Regions from separate parts of the Homo sapiens genome. Here region 2 is linked to region 1. The links come from fine-mapping of genetic effects on gene expression. Tissue or cell type: whole blood. Region 1 holds a variant in brackets; the other region holds the start of a gene. All regions are shown on one strand. Distances are between the middles of the regions.

Region 1 (5,194 bases):
TCTGTGTAAGCATGGGAGAAAAAGGCAAGAAGGAAACACAGCTGTTAACAATGAGGAATAATGGGGGGAGGCTTCGATAGATCTTTGTTTCAAAGGACAGGAACCCAACTCATACTTGCTTAAGACAAAAACAACAACAAAAAAGTAATTTATTGGCTTATATCACTGAAGAGTCCAGGGGTGAGTCTGTCTTTGGCACAGCCCGGACAATGTCTGCAGGGCTTGGTCTCTGCTCTCCTCTGTGTGGGCTTCCTTCTCGCGCATGTTCTCCTTAGGCAGTACTCCTGGAAACTCTTGGAATATACGTACCCATTTAGTAACTTCGGAGAGAGCAGAAAGCCATTCTTCTTCCCAGTGGCTCCAGTAAAATTCCAGGATTGACTCTGATGGGCCTGGTTTGGTCATATGTCCTTCCTGAACCAATCACTATGGATAGGACTTTTTTTTTTTTTTTTTTTTTTTTCTGTGCTTGAGTGGTCTGAATCTTCCCACGGAGACAGGGAGATGGAGTCATTTCCATCCAAGCCACTTTTACTGAGAGTGTAGGGACTGCCCAGAGGAAATCAAGAGGCTATTTATCAGAAGAAAGAATGGGTTCCGGGGGATGAAAACCCAATCTGTGTTCCCGTTGACTAGGGGGAAGGGTATAATGACTGGCTAGGTCTGCTCACAAGGCCATGCTTGGAGGACATGAGGCAAGTCCACTTGAGTCATCTTCCCCAAAACCACGGGCACTGGGCAGAAAAAACTACACTTGAACACTGTAGGTGGATTGAGGGGTGGGCAGAAGCAAGAAGAGCAAAATAGCACGGGGAAGGAACGGGTGGGCTCAAATCCAGAAATCCAGATTTGAATCTGAGTTTTGCCATTTGGTAATTTTTAAACTTCTGAGCCTCAGTTTCTCATTGGAAAACTGGATCAATGCAGGAACAGTGCCTGTAGAATTCTTATGAGAATTAAATGGAATACTCGACATAAAGGATTCAGCTCTGTTCCTGAAAAAGCCAATGAATGTTTGCTGTTATGATAGTGGTCTTGAACTTCCATGCGGGTGACTGTGCCCTTGATAAGGGGTCAGGCTGTCCTCGGAGCCCTCTTCCTCATGCCATCAGGGCCTCCCCAGCACAGGCCTCAGAACTCACTAACATGTTGCTCAGTCAAAGCCTGGCCAGATTCCAACCCCAGGCATGAAGGAAAGCATAAAGGATCTGGTGTTTGGGTGTGGTCACGGTGGGTCCTGATGGGGCTGCGTCAAGGCTAATGAGGAAGAGGCTGGAGGGCCAGGGATTGGCAAGGAGGAAGGTGAGGAGTAAGGGGAGGGGTGATTTTGGCTAGAGCCAGCAGGGGTCACTGCAGATCTAAGTAACTTCAGGGAAGCGGCAGGGCCACCCATGGGCCCTCCCACATTACTACCTGCCTTCGTAACTGGGATACAGGTCTTGGACCAGTTCTGGGGAGAAGGATTGGGATTGGACTCACGCAGTGGGAGGTAGCTGCCTAGGGCATCTGCCCTTGGTGTCCTCCGGGGCCTAGGCTGTCTCTCCTCCATGGAGGCTCTTCACCAATGGGGTGTGGGCCTGGCGTGCCACCGGACTCTGAGTTCCAGCAGTGCCTAGTAAGTGCATCTTGAGATGCTCCCCTATAAAGAGCTCTGAGATTAAATGCGTTTCCTTGTCTCGTCCCTCGTCTCTGAGGGTTGTAGCCCAGATTAGCATGTTAGAGGCTCAGAGAAGTCCTGCAGTCAAGAAAACCTGTTAGACTGTGTTTAACTCAGGTTTCCTGTGCTTATTTGAGCCCGTTTGCCACAACATAGTTAGGGAAATGCTGGCTTAAGGGTGGGAAAGGGGGTGTGCTTGATACATTAACCTTCCCCAAGAGCATTTGCCCTCCCAACACACTCCCTCCTCCACCCATTGCAAGTAGTGTGTGACACATGTCTGTTGTAGAAAAGTGGGGGAAAAAACTACAAAGAAGAAAGTTACCCATCCCCTGCCTCCAGAAGAAAGTTACCCATCCCCTGCCTCCTGCTCCTTAGTCTCTTCTCAAAAGAGCTCTGGCCACTGTCCTCGGTCTTCCTGGAGAAAGGGTGATGATGGAGCTCCCCTCAAGGCACACCCACTTCTACTGGGGAGAAGCCCCAAGAGGAAAGGGCCCTTTTAGAGGTCATCTTATCCACCCCTCCGTCTCCTCTCTGTGCAGATTCTTGCTTCCCTCTCTTGCTGACATTCCTACAGGAAGGGAGATGGTGGTGGTGGTTTGGAGGGTGTTGAGGGGCGCAGAGGGCAATTGGGTATGTAGATCATCAGGGTGGAAGGTGAGCTTCCTTTCTAGGTGGGGAAACAGGCTCAGAGAGGGGCCATGACTTACTGGTGTTTCACAATGAGCCAGTGGTGGAGCTCACAGATCCTGGCCCCAGACCAGGCACCCTCCTCCCCCTAACCCCCATCTCCAGCTCTCAATGCCAAGAGTCTGGAGCGGGCCCTGTGCACTCCAGGCAAGGCTGCGGTTTCTTCTGTGGGACTGTGGAGCCACCCAGGGTGTGTGGGTGCTGCGCACGCGCACCACAGTTGTGTAACAGGCTCTGGGGCGTGTGCACGCGCTCAGTAACCTGATGCAACAGGGAAGCTGTGGTCCCGTGAGCTGGGGTGTGGGCGCTTGGCCGGTGCCCAAACCACAAAGAGTATTTGGCT[G/T]GTGGCTAAGGAGGCCAGGCATGGGGGTCGCAGAGTTGTCTACGTCAGGGCTTGTCTATCCCTAGTTGCCCACATCCTGGTCCCTGTGGGCGCAGGGCTGGGAATGGGGCTGCCTGGCCAGGTGATACTGTGGAGGAGGGGTTGGGGCCTTGCCCCTTCCTCCTTCTGTTTGCCACGATGCCTATTGTGATGAGGATGGGGGGCAGGCGGGGCTTCCTCCCTGTGGTTCCATCTCTTCCTGGCTGTAACCCCCCAACCCAGTTCTGTACCCTGCTCTCTCCACCAATCCTGGAGCCCTCACCACAGATCCAGGTCATTTTACACAGCAATATCTGCCTCTCACTCCCCCACCTCCCCTGAGTCTCACAGCCCTGCCCTCCCTACATAATAGGCTTTCCTGGGCACCCCAAATTGGGAGAAGCAGAACGGGGAAGGAGAAGAAGAGTGGCCACTTTGCAGCCAGCCCAGATGCTGACTTTCCGCTGCCACTTCTGAACTGAGTGACTGAGAAAGATCAGTGTCCCTTCTCAGCCTCCATGTACTCATCTAAGAGGTGGGGGCAGTGATACTCCCTGCTGAGAGTGGTGGAAAGATAGTGTGCTCCTGTGAACAGGAGTCCTGAACTCTTGAACTCTAGGGTCTAGGAAAGAACTCCATGAAAGGGGAGTTGCCCCTTCATTCTGCTCCATGTGGATTGAGTGTTAGGGCACCCGCCCTCCTCCCAACTCCCCAGCATTTCTATCACCAGACAGGGTGGCAGGCACTTTGGAGAGCCAGGGTCCTGGGAGGAGGTGGCCCATGAAAGCAGGCCCTATTCTGCCTGCCTGTGGCCACCTGTGTACCCTCTCTCCCCTCTTGTCCGCAGGGAGGTGGGGCACATGCATTTCTTCTGCCCCTCTCCACTTGCTCCAGCACTTCAGAAAGGCAACATCCTTGGGGGTGGCCAGTGGGTTCCAGGGATGCAGGGTTAGGTGACGCAGGGAGGGCATCTATGCCCAGTGTCCTGACTCTCTTCCCTGGCTGGGCTGTACCTGGCACGTTGGGGCTCCTCTCCAGTGCTCCCAGGATGCCCTGGATCTACATTGCCTTATTCTGCACTAACCACCTAATGTTTTGATGATCTGCTTATGCATCTACCTAAAAATAACAAATGATGCACTTTGGGAGGCCAAGGCGGGAGGATTGCTTGAGTCCAGGAGTTTGAGACCAGCCTGGGCAACATAATGAAACCCCTATCTCTACAAAAAGTAAACAAATTAGCCAGGTGTGGTGGTGCACACCTGTAGTCCCAGCTACTCAGAAGGCTGAGGTGGGAGGATTGCTTGAGCCCAGGCAGTCAAGCCTGCAGTGAGCCACGATCATGCCACTGCACTCCAGCCTGGGTGACAGAGTGAGACTCCTCCATTCCACCCTCCCCTTCCCTGGGAAAAATAAATAATTGATGACACTTACATAGTGCTCACTATGTTCCAGGCTTTACATATACTAACTCGTTTGCTTCCCATGGTGGAGATGGATATGATTGTTCTCCTTGAGGAAACTGAAGCCCAGAGAAGGCAAGTAAGTGCCCTGCTCAAATTTAATTCACTTGTGTTGTCTAACCTCAGTCACTGTCCTATCACCCTGTTTTATTTTCTTCGGAGCCTTGCTTGGAAAAACAGTGGTCTACTGGTTTGCTTACTTGCCCATTGTCTGTCTCACAGACAGCACGAGACATCGCCTCATAGATAGCAAGCTCCTTGAGTGCAGGGCCTTCATCTTTCTTGTTCACATTCCCAAAGCTTAACTGATGCTTTAGAGAAGCTCAGTGAATATTTGTGGAAAGAATGAGCCACTGGCCCACTGAATGGAGACTCCTCGAGGGTGCACTCTGTGATTATTCATTTCTGTTACCCCCACACTTCCTAGCACAGGGCCTGGCACAGATACAGTGCTCAGTAAACTGTTTGTTGAGTGAATAAATGAATGAATGAATGAATGGAAAAAAATTCCAGAGGACTCAGTTGCTGTTGCTCTTCCTTCCAGACTCTGGGAACTAGTGGAAAGTCTTCAGCCACAGGAGATGTGGGAGAATATTCTTTCTGGATCTCTGTTTTGGTTTCTCTGTGTGATTTGGTGTGTGCGCAGAGTGGGTACACAGGGCGGAAAGCATGAGAAGAAGATTGGAAATGAAATAATCTCTGGGAAATGACTCCCTGAATAATTATTTCATGTCCAAAGGCAAGAGAGGATAGAAACAGAATATGTAGGTGTGGGCCCAGAGGAGGCCCCTAGTAAATGTTTGATGAATGAATGAGTGAGTGAGGCCTTTGAAGAAAGGCCCAGGCCATGATTTTCTTTGTAGTCCCAGACCCTAGGATGGGCTCAGACTAGAATATGATACGTTTGCTGAATGAATGAATGAATGAATAAATGAATGCACACATGAGCACAAAGGAGCATGGAAATGATTGGAAAGGGTGAGTGCTGCAAAGGACCTCAGAGTGCTGGTGAACCAGACCAGG
Region 2 (5,125 bases), 45 kb after region 1:
AAACCCCTAGGCCAGGTTGTAATCCTAGCCTTATATAAAAGGAATTCTGTGCCCTCACTCCCCTGGATCCCTGGGCAAAGCCCCAGAGGGAAACACAAACAGGTTGTTGTAACACACCTTGCTGGGTACCACCATGGAGGACAGTTGGCTTATGGGGGTGGGGGGTGCCTGGGGCCACGGAGTGACTGGTGATGGCTATCCCTCCTTGGAACCCCTCCAGCCTCCTCTTAGCTTCAGATTTGTTTATTTGTTTTTTACTAAGACCTGCTCTTTCAGGTCTGTTGGCTCTTTTAGGGGCTGAAGAAGGCCGAGTTGAGAAGGGATGCAAGGGAGGGGGCCAGAATGAGCCCTTAGGGCTCAGAGCCTCCATCCTGCCCCAAGATGTCTACAGCTTGTGCTCCTGGGGTGCTAGAGGCGCACAAGGAGGAAAGTTAGTGGCTTCCCTTCCATATCCCGTTCATCAGCCTAGAGCATGGAGCCCAGGTGAGGAGGCCTGCCTGGGAGGGGGCCCTGAGCCAGGAAATAAACATTTACTAACTGTACAAAGACCTTGTCCCTGCTGCTGGGGAGCCTGCCAAGTGGTGGAGACAGGACTAGTGCACGAATGATGGAAAGGGAGGGTTGGGGTGGGTGGGAGCCAGCCCTTTTCCTCATAAGGGCCTTAGGACACCATACCGATGGAACTGGGGGTACTGGGGAGGTAACCTAGCACCTCCACCAAACCACAGCAACATGTGCTGAGGATGGGGCTGACTAGGTAAGCTCCCTGGAGCGTTTTGGTTAAATTGAGGGAAATTGCTGCATTCCCATTCTCAGTCCATGCCTCCACAGAGGCTATGCCAGCTGTAGGCCAGACCCTGGCAAGATCTGGGTGGATAATCAGACTGACTGGTCCCACTCTTCCCACAGGCCTCAGAGCCCCAACTTTGTTCCCTGGGGCAGCCTGGAAATAGCCAGGTCAGAAACCAGCTAGGAATTTTTCCAAGCTGCTTCCTATATGCAAGAATGGGATGGGGCCTTTGGGAGCACTTAGGGAAGATGTGGAGAGTTGGAGGAAAAGGGGGCTTGGAGGTAAGGGAGGGGACTGGGGGAAGGATAGGGGAGAAGCTGTGAGCCTGGAGAAGTAGCCAAGGGATCCTGAGGGAATGGGGGAGCTGAGACGAAACCCCCATTTCTATTCAGAAGATGAGCTATGAGTCTGGGCTTGGGCTGATAGAAGCCTTGGCCCCTGGCCTGGTGGGAGCTCTGGGCAGCTGGCCTACAGACGTTCCTTAGTGCTGGCGGGTAGGTTTGAATCATCACGCAGGCCCTGGCCTCCACCCGCCCCCACCAGCCCCCTGGCCTCAGTTCCCTGGCAACATCTGGGGTTGGGGGGGCAGCAGGAACAAGGGCCTCTGTCTGCCCAGCTGCCTCCCCCTTTGGGTTTTGCCAGACTCCACAGTGCATACGTGGGCTCCAACAGGTCCTCTTCCCTCCCAGTCACTGACTAACCCCGGAACCACACAGCTTCCCGTTCTCAGCTCCACAAACTTGGTGCCAAATTCTTCTCCCCTGGGAAGCATCCCTGGACACTTCCCAAAGGACCCCAGTCACTCCAGCCTGTTGGCTGCCGCTCACTTTGATGTCTGCAGGCCAGATGAGGGCTCCAGATGGCACATTGTCAGAGGGACACACTGTGGCCCCTGTGCCCAGCCCTGGGCTCTCTGTACATGAAGCAACTCCAGTCCCAAATATGTAGCTGTTTGGGAGGTCAGAAATAGGGGGTCCAGGAGCAAACTCCCCCCACCCCCTTTCCAAAGCCCATTCCCTCTTTAGCCAGAGCCGGGGTGTGCAGACGGCAGTCACTAGGGGGCGCTCGGCCACCACAGGGAAGCTGGGTGAATGGAGCGAGCAGCGTCTTCGAGAGTGAGGACGTGTGTGTCTGTGTGGGTGAGTGAGTGTGTGCGTGTGGGGTTGAGGGCGTTGGAGCGGGGAGAAGGCCAGGGGTCACTCCAGGATTCCAATAGATCTGTGTGTCCCTCTCCCCACCCGTCCCTGTCCGGCTCTCCGCCTTCCCCTGCCCCCTTCAATATTCCTAGCAAAGAGGGAACGGCTCTCAGGCCCTGTCCGCACGTAACCTCACTTTCCTGCTCCCTCCTCGCCAATGCCCCGCGGGCGCGTGTCTCTGGACAGAGTTTCCGGGGGCGGATGGGTAATTTTCAGGCTGTGAACCTTGGTGGGGGTCGAGCTTCCCCTTCATTGCGGCGGGCTGCGGGCCAGGCTTCACTGAGCGTCCGCAGAGCCCGGGCCCGAGCCGCGTGTGGAAGGGCTGAGGCTCGCCTGTCCCCGCCCCCCGGGGCGGGCCGGGGGCGGGGTCCCGGCGGGGCGGAGCCATGCGCCCCCCCCTTTTTTTTTTAAAAGTCGGCTGGTAGCGGGGAGGATCGCGGAGGCTTGGGGCAGCCGGGTAGCTCGGAGGTCGTGGCGCTGGGGGCTAGCACCAGCGCTCTGTCGGGAGGCGCAGCGGTTAGGTGGACCGGTCAGCGGACTCACCGGCCAGGGCGCTCGGTGCTGGAATTTGATATTCATTGATCCGGGTTTTATCCCTCTTCTTTTTTCTTAAACATTTTTTTTTAAAACTGTATTGTTTCTCGTTTTAATTTATTTTTGCTTGCCATTCCCCACTTGAATCGGGCCGACGGCTTGGGGAGATTGCTCTACTTCCCCAAATCACTGTGGATTTTGGAAACCAGCAGAAAGAGGAAAGAGGTAGCAAGAGCTCCAGAGAGAAGTCGAGGAAGAGAGAGACGGGGTCAGAGAGAGCGCGCGGGCGTGCGAGCAGCGAAAGCGACAGGGGCAAAGTGAGTGACCTGCTTTTGGGGGTGACCGCCGGAGCGCGGCGTGAGCCCTCCCCCTTGGGATCCCGCAGCTGACCAGTCGCGCTGACGGACAGACAGACAGACACCGCCCCCAGCCCCAGCTACCACCTCCTCCCCGGCCGGCGGCGGACAGTGGACGCGGCGGCGAGCCGCGGGCAGGGGCCGGAGCCCGCGCCCGGAGGCGGGGTGGAGGGGGTCGGGGCTCGCGGCGTCGCACTGAAACTTTTCGTCCAACTTCTGGGCTGTTCTCGCTTCGGAGGAGCCGTGGTCCGCGCGGGGGAAGCCGAGCCGAGCGGAGCCGCGAGAAGTGCTAGCTCGGGCCGGGAGGAGCCGCAGCCGGAGGAGGGGGAGGAGGAAGAAGAGAAGGAAGAGGAGAGGGGGCCGCAGTGGCGACTCGGCGCTCGGAAGCCGGGCTCATGGACGGGTGAGGCGGCGGTGTGCGCAGACAGTGCTCCAGCCGCGCGCGCTCCCCAGGCCCTGGCCCGGGCCTCGGGCCGGGGAGGAAGAGTAGCTCGCCGAGGCGCCGAGGAGAGCGGGCCGCCCCACAGCCCGAGCCGGAGAGGGAGCGCGAGCCGCGCCGGCCCCGGTCGGGCCTCCGAAACCATGAACTTTCTGCTGTCTTGGGTGCATTGGAGCCTTGCCTTGCTGCTCTACCTCCACCATGCCAAGGTAAGCGGTCGTGCCCTGCTGGCGCCGCGGGCCGCTGCGAGCGCCTCTCCCGGCTGGGGACGTGCGTGCGAGCGCGCGCGTGGGGGCTCCGTGCCCCACGCGGGTCCATGGGCACCAGGCGTGCGGCGTCCCCCTCTGTCGTCTTAGGTGCAGGGGGAGGGGGCGCGCGCGCTAGGTGGGAGGGTACCCGGAGAGAGGCTCACCGCCCACGCGGGCCCTGCCCACCCACCGGAGTCACCGCACGTACGATCTGGGCCGACCAGCCGAGGGCGGGAGCCGGAGGAGGAGGCCGAGGGGGCTGGGCTTGCGTTGCCGCTGCCGGCTGAAGTTTGCTCCCGGCCGCTGGTCCCGGACGAACTGGAAGTCTGAGCAGCGGGGGCGGGAGCCAGAGACCAGTGGGCAGGGGGTGCTCGGACCTTGGACCGCGGGAGGGCAGAGAGCGTGGAGGGGGCAGGGCGCAGGAGGGAGAGGGGGCTTGCTGTCACTGCCACTCGGTCTCTTCAGCCCTCGCCGCGAGTTTGGGAAAAGTTTTGGGGTGGATTGCTGCGGGGACCCCCCCTCCCTGCTGGGCCACCTGCGCCGCGCCAACCCCGCCCGTCCCCGCTCGCGTCCCGCTCGGTGCCCGCCCTCCCCCGCCCGGCCGGGTGCGCGCGGCGCGGAGCCGATTACATCAGCCCGGGCCTGGCCGGCCGCGTGTTCCCGGAGCCTCGGCTGCCCGAATGGGGAGCCCAGAGTGGCGAGCGGCACCCCTCCCCCCGCCAGCCCTCCGCGGGAAGGTGACCTCTCGAGGTAGCCCCAGCCCGGGGATCCAGAGAACCATCCCTACCCCTTCCTACTGTCTCCAGACCCTACCTCTGCCCAGTGCTAGGAGGAATTTCCTGACGCCCCTTCTCTTCACCCATTTCCTTTTTAGCCTGGAGAGAAGCCCCTGTCACCCCGCTTATTTTCATTTCTCTCTGCGGAGAAGATCCATCTAACCCCTTTCTGGCCCCAGAGTCCAGGGAAAGGATGATCACTGTCAGAAGTCGTGGCGCGGGAGCCCACTGGGCGCTTTGTCACATTCCACCGAAAGTCCCGACTTGGTGACAGTGTGCTTCCCTTCCCTCGCCAACAGTTCCGAGTGAGCTGTGCTTTAGCTCTCGTGGGGGTGGGTCAAGGGAGGATTTGAAGAGTCATTGCCCCACTTTACCCTTTTGGAGAAATGGCTTGAAATTTGCTGTGACACGGGCAGCATGGGAATAGTCCTTCCTGAACCCTGGAAAGGAGCTCCTGCCAGCCTTGCACACACTTTGTCCTGGTGAAAGGCAGCCCTGGAGCAGGTGTTTTTTTGGAACTCCAAACCTGCCCACCCAACTTGCTTCTGAAAGGGACTCTAAAGGGTCCCTTTCCGCTCCTCTCTGACGCCTTCCCTCAGCCAGAATTCCCTTGGAGAGGAGGCAAGAGGAAAGCCATGGACAGGGGTCGCTGCTAACACCGCAAGTTCCTCAGACCCTGGCACAAAGGCCTTGGCTACAGGCCTCCAAGTAGGGAGGAGGGGGAGGAGTGGCTGCCTGGCCACAGTGTGACCTTCAGAGGCCCCCAGAGAAGGACACCTGGCCCCT

What was found. PIP is the estimated chance that this variant, and not a neighbour inherited with it, causes the effect.
Region 2: VEGFA starts here. The variant in region 1 is fine-mapped to the expression of VEGFA in whole blood (TOPMed, PIP above 0.99). The same link has a PIP of 0.9 or more in blood mononuclear cells and monocytes.

Annotation. Positions count from the first base shown.
Region 1 is chr6:43,722,667-43,727,860 of GRCh38, forward strand. No RefSeq gene overlaps it. Among named protein-coding and RNA genes, the nearest start is that of MRPS18A, 37 kb to the left of the region's middle. RefSeq lists an enhancer at 2,275-2,364. The variant G/T (reference allele first, on the strand shown) is at 2,691.
Region 2 is chr6:43,767,789-43,772,913 of GRCh38, forward strand. It overlaps VEGFA (vascular endothelial growth factor A), which reads left to right and starts at 2,423. Exons shown (of 8, transcript NM_003376.6): 1 at 2,423-3,524. The coding sequence starts at 2,919. RefSeq lists silencers at 2,236-2,485, 2,863-3,802, 3,873-4,392 and enhancers at 2,848-3,613, 3,614-4,379, 4,380-5,125.